2 separate regions of the Homo sapiens genome follow, and region 2 is linked to region 1. Evidence: fine-mapped QTL for protein levels in blood plasma. Region 1 holds a variant in brackets. A gene starts in the other region. All regions are shown on their forward strands.

Evidence for each region. PIP is the chance, under the fine-mapping model, that this variant and not a neighbour inherited with it causes the effect. Protein levels are from antibody-based Olink assays in UK Biobank. Linkage for the fine-mapping came from a reference panel and not from the study's own genotypes, which makes the PIPs less certain.
Region 2: RFC4 starts here. The variant in region 1 is fine-mapped to the plasma level of the RFC4 protein (UK Biobank, PIP 0.97).

The regions. Positions count from the first base shown.
Region 1 is chr5:140,377,372-140,382,752 of GRCh38, forward strand. All of the region lies in intron 1 of ANKHD1-DT (ANKHD1 divergent transcript), which reads right to left. It overlaps LOC124901087 (a long non-coding RNA gene), which reads left to right and starts at 2,664. Exons shown (of 2, transcript XR_007058967.1): 1 at 2,664-5,381. RefSeq lists a silencer at 4,744-4,863. The variant T/G (reference allele first, on the strand shown) is at 2,491.
Region 2 is chr3:186,805,502-186,810,878 of GRCh38, forward strand. It overlaps RFC4 (replication factor C subunit 4), which reads right to left and starts at 981. Exons shown (of 11, transcript NM_002916.5): 1 at 789-981. RefSeq lists enhancers at 537-1,148, 1,149-1,760.

The sequences.
Region 1 (5,381 bases):
TCTCTTTTTTTTTTTTTTTTTTTTTTTTGAGACGGAGTCTCGCTCTGTCGCCCAGGCTGGAGTGCAGTGGCGGGATCTCGGCTCATTGCAACCTCCGCCTCCTGGGTTCAAGCGATTCTTCTGCCTCAGCCTCCGGAGTAGCTGGGATTACAGGTGCCTGCCACGACGCCCGGCTAATTTTTGTATTTTTACTAGAGACGGGATTTCACCATGTTGGCCAAGCTGGTCTTGAACTCCTGACCTCAGGTGATCCAACTGCCTTGGCCTCCCAAAGTGCTGGGATTGCAGGCGTGAGCCACTGCGCCCGGCCCTCCAATTTTCTATTTCTATTAGGCCAGCCTACTAACTGTGCTGTTCCAGATGTTCTATATATGGCATGACTTTCTTCGGCCTGTTTGAACTAGCAAGTACTAGGGAAGGTATTTTAATAAACCTATTATGATAATAAATTCGTCACTATCTCCTTGAAGAATTTGTCAATTTTTGCTTTTATGTATTTTTAAATGCTGTGTTTTGAGTGCTTTCTAGTTTAGAATTGTTATATCTTACTGGTTAATTGATCCTTTTATTATTTTGTAATGATTTTATTTTGTAGTGATTAGTAATTCTTTCTGCTTAATAGTTATTTTGTCTGCTAGAAATATAGTTAAATTAGCTTTCTTGTGATTAGAATTTACCTATATTATATATTTCCATTCTTTGAATTTTAGTGTTTCTGTGTTCTTATATTTTACCTGTATTTTTCGTAATCATCATGTGGTCAGATTTAGTTTTTTTTGTATTTACTTTTATTTTATTTTACATAAAAAATTTTTTAGAGGCAAGGTCTCACTCTGTCACCCAGGCTGGAGCGTAGTGGCATGATCTTGGCTCACTGCAGCCTCAACCTCCTGGGCTGAAGAGATCCCCCTGCCTCAGCCTCCTGAGTAGCTTGGACTACAAGCACACACCTCCGTGCCCTGCTTATTTATTTATTTATTTTTTATTTATTTATTTGAGATGGAGTCTCACTCTGTTGCCCAAGCTAGAGTACAGTGGTACGTTCTTGGCTCACTGCAACCTCCACCTCCCGGGCTCAAGCAATTCTCCTGCCTCAGCCTCCTAAGTAGCTGGGATTACAGGTGCATACCACCATGCCCATCTAATTTTTTTGTATTTTAGTAGAGACGGGGTTTCACCATGTTGCCCAGGGTAGTTTCAAACTCCTGAGCTCAGGCAATCCAGCCGCCTTGGCCTCCCACAGTGCTGAGATTACAGGCGTGAGCCATCGTGCCTGGCCACTCTGCTTATTTATTTATTTTTTCTTAATTTTTGTAGAGACAGGGTCTCACTATGTTGCCCATTCTGGTCTCAAACTCCTGGCCTCAAGTAGTCCTCCTGCCTTGACCTCCCAAAGTGCTGGGATTATAGGTGTGAACCACTGCACTGGCCCAGGATTTTGTTTTTGTTTTTTTTAATTAATTAATTAATTAATTAATTATTTTGAGACAAAGTTTCGCTCTTGTTGTCCAGGCTGGAGTGCAATGGTGCAATCTTGGCTCACTATAACCTCTGCCTCCTGAGTTCAAGAGATTCTCCTGCTTCAGCCTCCCAAATAGCTGGTATTACAGGCATGCACCACCATGCCCAGCTAATTTGTTTTTTTTTTTTTTTTTTTTGAGATAGGGTCTCACCTGTCATGCAGCCTGAAGTGCAGTAGCACAAATATGGTTCACTGCAGCCTCAAACTTCTCAGCTCAAGTGATCCTCCCACCTCAGCCTCCTGAGTAGCTGGGAGCACAGGTGTGTGCCACCATGCTTGACTACTTTTTAAAATTTTTTGTAGAGATGGGGTCTCACTATGTTGCCCAGGCTGGTCACAAACTCCTGGGCTCAAGCAATCCTCCTGCCTTGGCCTATAGAAGTGCTGGGATTACAGGCGCCAGCCACTATGCCTGGCCAGGTTTTTTGTTTTTAAATCCAATTTGACAATCCATCTTTTAGCTAGAAAATTTAGTACATTTACATTTAGAGTAATTTCTAATATATTTGATTTTGTTTTATTTGCTTTTTATTTCCTATTTTTCTGTTCCTCTTTTCTCCTTTTCTTACCTTATTTTAGATGGATCGAGCTATTTTTGTACTTTTTCTTTTCCACTTTCCTCCCTTTACTTGCTTGGGATATAAGAAAAAGGGAGGTCAAAGATGACTCCCGTGTTTTGGGTCTCAGCAACAGGAAGAATGGAATTGCCATTGACTTGAGTTCATATTTGGGCATTATGATGCTATTTATTTATTTATTTATATTTTTGAGATGGAGTCTGGCTCTGTGTCCCAGGCTGGAGTGCAGTGGCATGATCTCAGCTCACTGCAAGCTCCGCCTCCCGGGTTCATGCCATTCTCCTGCCTCAGCCTCCTGAGTAGCTGGGACTACAGGCGTCCGCCACCATGCCCAGCTAATTTTTTTGTATTTTTAGTAGAGATGGGGTTTCACTGTGTTAGCCAGGATGG[T/G]CTCGATCTCCTGACCTCATGATCCACCCGCCTCGGCCTCCCGAAGTGCTGGGATTACAGGCGTGAGCCACCGTGCCCGGCCCATTTATTTATTTTTATTTATTTATTTAGCAGAGACAGGTTTCACCATGTTGGCCAGGCTGGTCTCGAACTCCTGACCTCAAAGCAATCCACTCGCCTCAGCCTCCCAAAGTGTTGGGATTACAGGCGTGAGCTACTATGCCTGGCCGTATGATGCATTTTAGACAATCAAGTAAAGATGTCAAATGGGCAGCTGGACATGCAAATCTGAAGTACAGAAGGAAATCTGAGTCAGAGATAAAATTTATAATTTTATTAGAGTACAAATTATATTGAAAACACAGACTATATACGATTGCCAAGGAAGTACAATCAGAGAACAGATCCAAGGACCAAGTCTTAGAACTCTTCACTGTTAAAAGGTTAAGAGATAGAGGAGCAACCAGGAAAGGAGAAGACTGAGGAGTGGCCAGTGATATGGAATCAAAACTGGGAGTTAAGAAAATGTTTCAGGGAGAATTGATTTTGGTTAATTTGTCTTGGGGTCATTCTAACTCTTTACTTTTGTGTTATCTCATTATGAATTTTAAAGTTAAAAATTATATTTAACCTATCATTTTAGTTGTTTTTTGGGGAAGATTGTTCAGAAATTATAATCCATACAATGTCAGAAATGGAAATTGTACCAACCCTTTTTTCAATATTATAAAGAAAAACCCTGGCTGGACGCAGTGCCTCATGCCTTATAATCCCAGGATTTTGGGTAGCTGAGTGGGGAGGATCGCTTGCGGCCTCAGGAGTTCAAGGCCAGCCTGGGCAACATAGTGAGACCCTGTCTCTACAAAAAAAAAAAACATAAAAAATTAGCTGGACATGGTGGCACATCCTGTCGTCCCAGCTACTCAGGGTGGGGGTGGGGATGGGGCAAGGGGTGCTCTAAGGTGGGAGGATCACTTGAGCACAGGAGTTTGAAGCTATAGTGAGCTGTGATTGCACCACTGCACTCCAGCCTGAGTGACACAGAGAGATCCTGTCTCAAAATAAAGTCTAAATTTAAACTATACTTAAAAAAAAAGTACTGGAGTTTCACTCTTGTTGCCCAGGCTAGAGTGCAGTGGCATGATCTCGGCTTACTGCAGCCTCCACCTCTGGGGGTTCAAGTGACTAACCTGCCTCAGCCTCCCGAGTAGCTGGGACTGTAGGCACCTGTCACCATGCCCATCTAATTTGTTTGTAGTTTTAGTAGAGACGGGGTTTCTCCATGTTAGCCAGGCTGGTCTCCAACTCCTGACCTCAGGTGATCCACCTGCCTCAGCCTCCCAAAGTGCTGGGATTACAGGCGTGAGCCACCGTGCCCAGCCAATAATTTTTTTTTTAGAGATAGGTTCTCGCTATGTTGCCCAGACTGGTCTCAAGCTCCTGGGCTCAAGCAATCCCCCGCCTTGGCCTCCTAAAGTGCTGGGATTACGGCATGAGCTACTGCACCCAGCCAAGTGATACTCTGGGCACGTATTTCTCTCAATCGATAGCTACTTAGACTATCATATCAGGGTTTTTCTTTTTATTTATTTAATTTATTTTTGAGACAGGGTCTTGCTCTGTTGCCCAGACTGGAGTGCAGTGGTGCAAGCATAGCTCACTGCAGTCTTGATCTCACAGGCTCTAGCAATCCTCTTGCCTCTGCCTGCCTAGGCTGAGGGGCTACAGGACTACAGGGACCGAGGGGCTACAGTGCAGCTGGGACTACAGGTGCACACCACCACACCTGGTTAATTTTTAAAATTATCTGTAGAGATGGTGTCTTGCTATATTGCCCAGGCTAGTCTCAAACTCCTGAACTCAAGCAATCCTCCCACGTTGGCCTTTCAAACTGATGGGATTACAGGCATGAGCCATTGTGCCCACCCTAAATTTAGACTTTAAAAATAAATGTATATTTTACTCATTTCAACAGCATCTACATATTGTTGAAAACATCTTCATTTAGACTTGCTTATTTAAGCATTCAACAAACACTTATTGAACATCAACAATGTACTGTCAGATAGGTTTCTGATTTCATGGAGTTTACCTTGTAGTGAAGGAGGGGCAAAGAAAAGGTAAGATAATCTCAGATAATGACAAGTACTCTGAAGAAATTAAAATAGGATATGATAGAAAACATTACTTAAGATGGGTGTTCAGGGAAGACCTCTCTGAGGGGATTGCCTTTAAGCTGAGACTTGAGTGACAAGGAGTAAGTGAAAGTATCATCTGCCTACAGTCAAGGAGTGACACATATACACATAAATTTAAGTCCCCAGATTAAGAACCACTGTCAGCCAGGAGCAGTGACTCATGCCTGTAGTCTCAGCACTTTGGGAGGCTAAGGTGGGAGGATTGCTTGAACCCAAGAGTTTGAGACCAGCCTGCATAAGAGGGTGAGACTCCATCTCTACAAAAATAATAAAAAAATAAGCTAGGCATGGTGATGCGTACCTGTAGTCCCCTTAGCTTGTTCAGTTCAGGTCACGTGAGCCAAGATATTCCTTTCTTGGCTCTAAACCATAGGTTTGAGTTTTTGTCAGTAAAATAGGGCCAAGAGCCTGGATTTTCAGTCTAGGGTGCTGGAAAGGTTAATTGATGCCTGTAACATTCTTTAAGATCTTTAGATGAAAGACTCGGGGCTGTATACAGAATTACCAAGGGCTTGGAAGCTCTTCCCTTCCAAGCCCCAGGGAAAATCCCTTCATATCAGTAACCTAGGCCTTTCCTCTCCAGTCTGTAGCTGTGGGACAATGGTTCTCAAACTTTTGCAGGCATTAGAATCAAAGGTTGTGATGTGAATTCCCAGGCTCTCTGCCTGAGATTCTGATTCTCCCTGAGGTTCT
Region 2 (5,377 bases), not on the chromosome of region 1:
GTGAGCCATCTCGCCTGGCCAGGGACCTATTTTCATGGCAGAGTCAATGCTTACCTACCTTCAGAGACTTTCTGTGGGGAAGGGAAGGTGGGGGACTCTGTTGTTAAAATAGAAACAGCTGTTTTTCTCATAACACACTCACTTGAAGAAATCAAAACAATGCATAAAAGCATGAGAGATTTAAAAAAGTAATACAAAATCCCACCCAGAAGGTAACTATTTCTAACATGCAGGTAAACATTCTTCCAGGCTGTTTTCAGGGATAAAAAGCATCATTAGCTCGCCTGAAAAGTCCCCGGTTAATTCTATTTTTTTCACTGCTACATGCCCTGGTGCCTAGAACAGTGCCTGGTACATGGTAGATGCTCCGTAATATTTGGTGAATGAATTACCATCTATGATACCCGGTTTCCTTTTCTGTTAAAGGAGCTAAGGCCTATTCCACAGGACAACTGAGTTAAATAAAAGAATGTATGCAAATACATAGTTCCTTGCTTGGCATATGGGGATATGCTCAATAAAATAAATTTTTAATATCTGTTAGCAGCCAAGGTTTTTATAACGTTACTGGATTAGTCCATCCCTGCCTCGGGCTGTTAAACATTAATACAGCCCAAAGCCGGGGCCTGCAAGATGCTGTCCGGAACCACCATTTCACCAAAGGGCGCGGCCAGGGCATGAAAGGGCCACTAGGCTGGGGCCCCGAAGGAGGTGGAAGACCTCACAAGGGGCATCAAGGGCAGGAGTGGGGAAGGCGAAGCGGGCTTGCAGTTCCTCCAGCAGGTTACCAGTTAGCCTGGCTTCTCGTGCAGGTCACCGCCGCCGGCTCGTTCCTCAGGTTTCCGCGATACAAAAAGGACGAGATGGTCTCGAAGTCTTAGCTCCGTCACCTAATCTGAGAATAACGGGCCCAGGAGACTTACGATCACTGATGTCCCCACAGTCGCCTCAGTTCCCGCCACGGAACGGCGGGCGAAAAGCAGGGCGGGAATACGCCGGTAGGAATACGCGGGCACGTAACGCGTCACTTCCGGTGCTGGGGCGCGCTGCTTGCGGAGGGAGTTTGCCCGTATACGGTTTTATTTAGGCAGGTGATGAGCCAGCCGGACTTTCAGGCAGAACTGGACTGGAACAGGCATGGCCTAGGAGGTGTCCCTGTCCCGGTGCATTGCTCCCACTTCAGACGTGAGCGCGACCCTCCCGGAAGGAGTAGAGGTCGCGCGGGCACGGCGCTGGGGCTGCTTACCTGGCAGGCTCAGCAATGAGGGCGGGGCGGCGGCGCGCGGGCCTCTGGAACCCTGCCGGTCCACCGAAGGTCCCGAGCCCGCTATCTTCGTAGGTGCGGGCCTCCGGAGGTGCAGGTCCCTGTCCTCCTTGTCCTGCTTCGTCGCAGAGCAGAACGCGTGTGCTTTAAGGGCAGAGACATCTGAAGATGCTTTGCCTTGCCCTCTTGAGGACACGTGGCTTTTACTTCTAATAGTGTCTGCGTGTTGTGGAGAGAGAAGACCATGCAGCTGTGGACATCTATTATAATTCCTGAGCCCCACTTAGAAATCTGGAAGTGAAGGCGTTCAATAAAAGTTAAAGGACTGATAATCATGTTTAGCCCCACCAAGCTTCATGCACAGTGGGCTAGGCTGGTGCCTGAGCCCACTGCTTTTATCTCTTCCAAGTACTTGGTTTAGCTCTGAAATGCTCCTTAATCCTATTGAAACCTGACCCTTCTCAAAGGCCACCTTCTCTACTGGTCTTTACTAATTACTAACCCATAAGGTTGTTCCGGGTCTTCTTCAAATGACTGTTTTGTTTGGCACAAACTCAGCATGATATCCATTGTTAACTTTGTACGTTTTTTTCATTTATCTTGCAACAAATGCTTACAGAATGTCCACGCACTGTGTTAGATGCCTGCAGATACAGCAGGGAAAACGCTCGAGATGCCCTCAAGTAGCTTTACAGACTAGGAGAGTGACAGACAATGTGATGTGTGGTTATGCAGAGGAAGTAGGGGGCTGTGAGAACTTACATCCCAGGCCTAACCCAATCAAGGGTTTAACCAAAGTAAGGATGCTTTATGCTACTTTGTAATTTCCACAGAGTCTGATACAATCTCTGGACAGTATAAAAAACACACAGGTTATCTATCTGGTCACCGGTTTACATTACCATAACTTATCAAACTGTATACTTAATGCTTGTATATTTTATTGTATGTAAATTATACCACAATACAGTTGATAAAACAAGATCTATGAAAATAGATGGTATCCATTTGCTACCTGAAGGAACAGCACAACCACAGAGAGGGGGATGTTATGATCTCATTTAACAGACAAGTTGGGCTGGGCACGGTGGCTCATGCCTGTAATCACAGCACTTTGGGAGGCCGAGGTGGGCGGATCACCTGAGGTCGGGAGTTCAAGACCAGCCTGGCCAACATGGTTAAACTCCATCTCTACAAAAATACAAAAATTAGCCAGGTATGATGGCAGGTGCCTGTAATCCCACCTACTTGGGAGGCTGAGGCAGGAGAATCGCTTGAACACGGTAGGTGGAGGTTGCAGTGAGCTGAGATCACGCCATTGCATTCCAGCCTGGTGACAGAGCGAGACTCCGTCTCAAAAACAAACAAACAAAAAAACAGACAAGCTGATGGATAAGTGGTCTTTGTCCATTTTGGCTGCTATGTTTATAAGCCATAGATTGGGTGGCTTATAAACATCATAAATTTATTTCTCACAGTTTTAGTGGCTGGGAAGTCCAAGATCAAGGCACCATAAGATTCAGTGGCTGGTGAGGGTTCACTCCCTCATTGACAGCTGTCTTACTGCTGTAACCTCACTTGGTGGAAAGGGCTAACTAGTTTTCTCCAGCCATCTCCTTTATGAAGGCATTTCTCCCATTCATGAGGGTTCCACTCTATTGAACCAGTCACCTCCCAAAGGCCCCACCTCCTGATACCATCACCTTGGGAGTTATAATTTCAATAACTATAATTTGGGGGTGTGGGGACAAACATTCAGACTACAACAAAGGTTAATAGCAAGTAAGTGGCAAAGCCATAATCCACATCTTGGACTGACTCCAGACTCAAAGCTTGTGATCAGTCACTGGGCAGGTTCAGGGCTGGCATAGAGGTGCCTTAATGTTAAATAGAAAAGAGAGACCTGAGTGGTATCTTGTTTTGGCAATTGATTTTAAAAAAATGCCACCTTTCTGCAGGTACATTCAGCCCTTGGTGGGATGAAAAACTTGGTGATAAGAGATTGGGCTGGATTTCTATCTCCACTTGCCCCTCAGCTGACTACTCCGTTATTGTACACAATTATAGGCAGCATCCTAATCCAGGTAGTTGAAGAACTTGTGTGCACACCAAGCATTGTCTCTCTCACCAGAACAAGAAATGTCCTTATATAAATACTTATCTTTTTTTGTGTCATACATATGTGGGTGTTCACATGATTAAACCAGTTTAACAAGTTTATAATAGCTTTTATTATTTATTGTAATGGGCATTCATTCAGTTACTACTATGATACTATTATGTGGAGATTTGTAAAGTTTTTTTGTTTTGTTTTATTTCTGTTTTTTCTTTTTTGAGACGGAGTCTCACTCTGTCACCCAGGCTGGAGTGCAATGGCTCAATCTTGGCTCACTGCAACCTCCGCTTCCCAGGTTCAAGTGATTCTCCTGCCTCAGCCTCCCAAGTAGCTGGGACTACAGGTGTGCACCACTGCACCCAGCTAATTTTTGTATTTTTTTTTTTAGAGATGGGGTTTCACCATGTTTGCCAGGCTGGTCTCGAACTCCTGACCTCGTGATTGCCCACCTCGGCATCCACCCACCTTGGCCTCCCAAAGTGCTGGGATTACAGGTGTGAGCCACCGTGCCTGGACCCTGTGAAGTTTTTTAATCTTAAAAGAGGGCTTTCAAAAGTTGAGTACAGCTTTATTTAGTGCGTTGCCCTTTGAAACAGATGATACAAAACTGTACCTGCATGATGTGTGTGTGTGTGTGTGTGTGTGTGTGTGTGTGTGTATATATATATATAGAGAGAGAGAGAGAGAGAGAAAGAGAGAGAGAGAGAGCACGAGATCTCCCTATGTTTAGTCTTGAACTCCTTGGCTCAAGGGATCCTCCCACCTCAGCCTCCCAAAGTGCTGGGAATACAGGTGTTAGCCACTGCCTCTGGCCCTGGATTATGTTTTTTTTTAAATTTTTTGAGACACAGTCTCACCCTGTTGCTTAGGCTGGAGTGCGGTGGCACTAACTCAGGTCACTGCAACCTCCACCTTTTGGATTCAAGTGATTCTCGTGCCTCAGCCACTTGATTACAGACACATGCTGCCAAACGTGGCTAACTTTTGTATTTTTAGTGGAGACAGGGTTTTACCACGTTGTTCAGGCTGGTCTCAAACTCCTGACCTCAAGTGATTCTCCCGCCTCAGCCTCCTAAAGTGCTGGGATTACAGGCGTGAGCCACTGTGCCTGGCCTGGATGATATTTTATAAGGTCACTAGGAAAGGAAAAGACTTGGGTAGCAAATGAAAAAAGAGAGCTGTCAGGAGTGGAAAAGATCAGATAGTGGATGATAGTGTCATTTTGAAATCAGAAAATGCAGGCTGAGTGCAGTAGTTCATGCCTATAACCCTAGCACTTTGATAGGCCAAGGTGAGAAGATCACTTGAGCCCAGGAGTTTGAGACCAGTCTGGGCAACACAGCTGAGACCCCATCTCTAGAAAAATAACAAATAAATAGAAAAAAAAATCAGAAAATGCAGGTGTAGTGGATGCTCTGGTATGCTACCTTTCAGGACTGAGATACTCACTCCCCCAGCTGCTGGGAGGGTTGCTGGCCAACTCTTGAATGAGTCCCTGTCCAGCAACTGTCTTCAGCCAACAAAACCACTTTATCAAAAATTGCATTCCTTTTGTGGAGGCAGCCCACCTCCAAGGGCTAGTCTAGGAGGATGCTACAGTTTGGATGTGGTTTGTTCCCGCCCAAACTCATGTTGAAGTTTAATTGCCAGTGTGGAGGTGGGGCCTAGTGTGAGGTGTTTGGCTCACTGGGGTGGATCCCTCATGAATAGACTGGTGTCATTCTCAAGATAGTGAGTGAGTTCTTGTTCCTGGGAGATTGTATTCGTTCTTATGGAAATGGATTAGCTCCTGAGAGAGCAAGTTGTTATGAAGTGGGTCAGCCTCCTTGGTCCCCTCACTCAGCACGTGCCTGCTCACCTTTCTGCTTCTCCTCCATGTCATAAGGCAGCATGAGGCCCTCACCAGAAGCTGAACAGCCTGGCGCCATGCTCTTGGACTTTGCAGCTACCAGAATTGTGAGCTAAAGAAATCTCTTTTCTTTTTTTTCTTTTTTTTT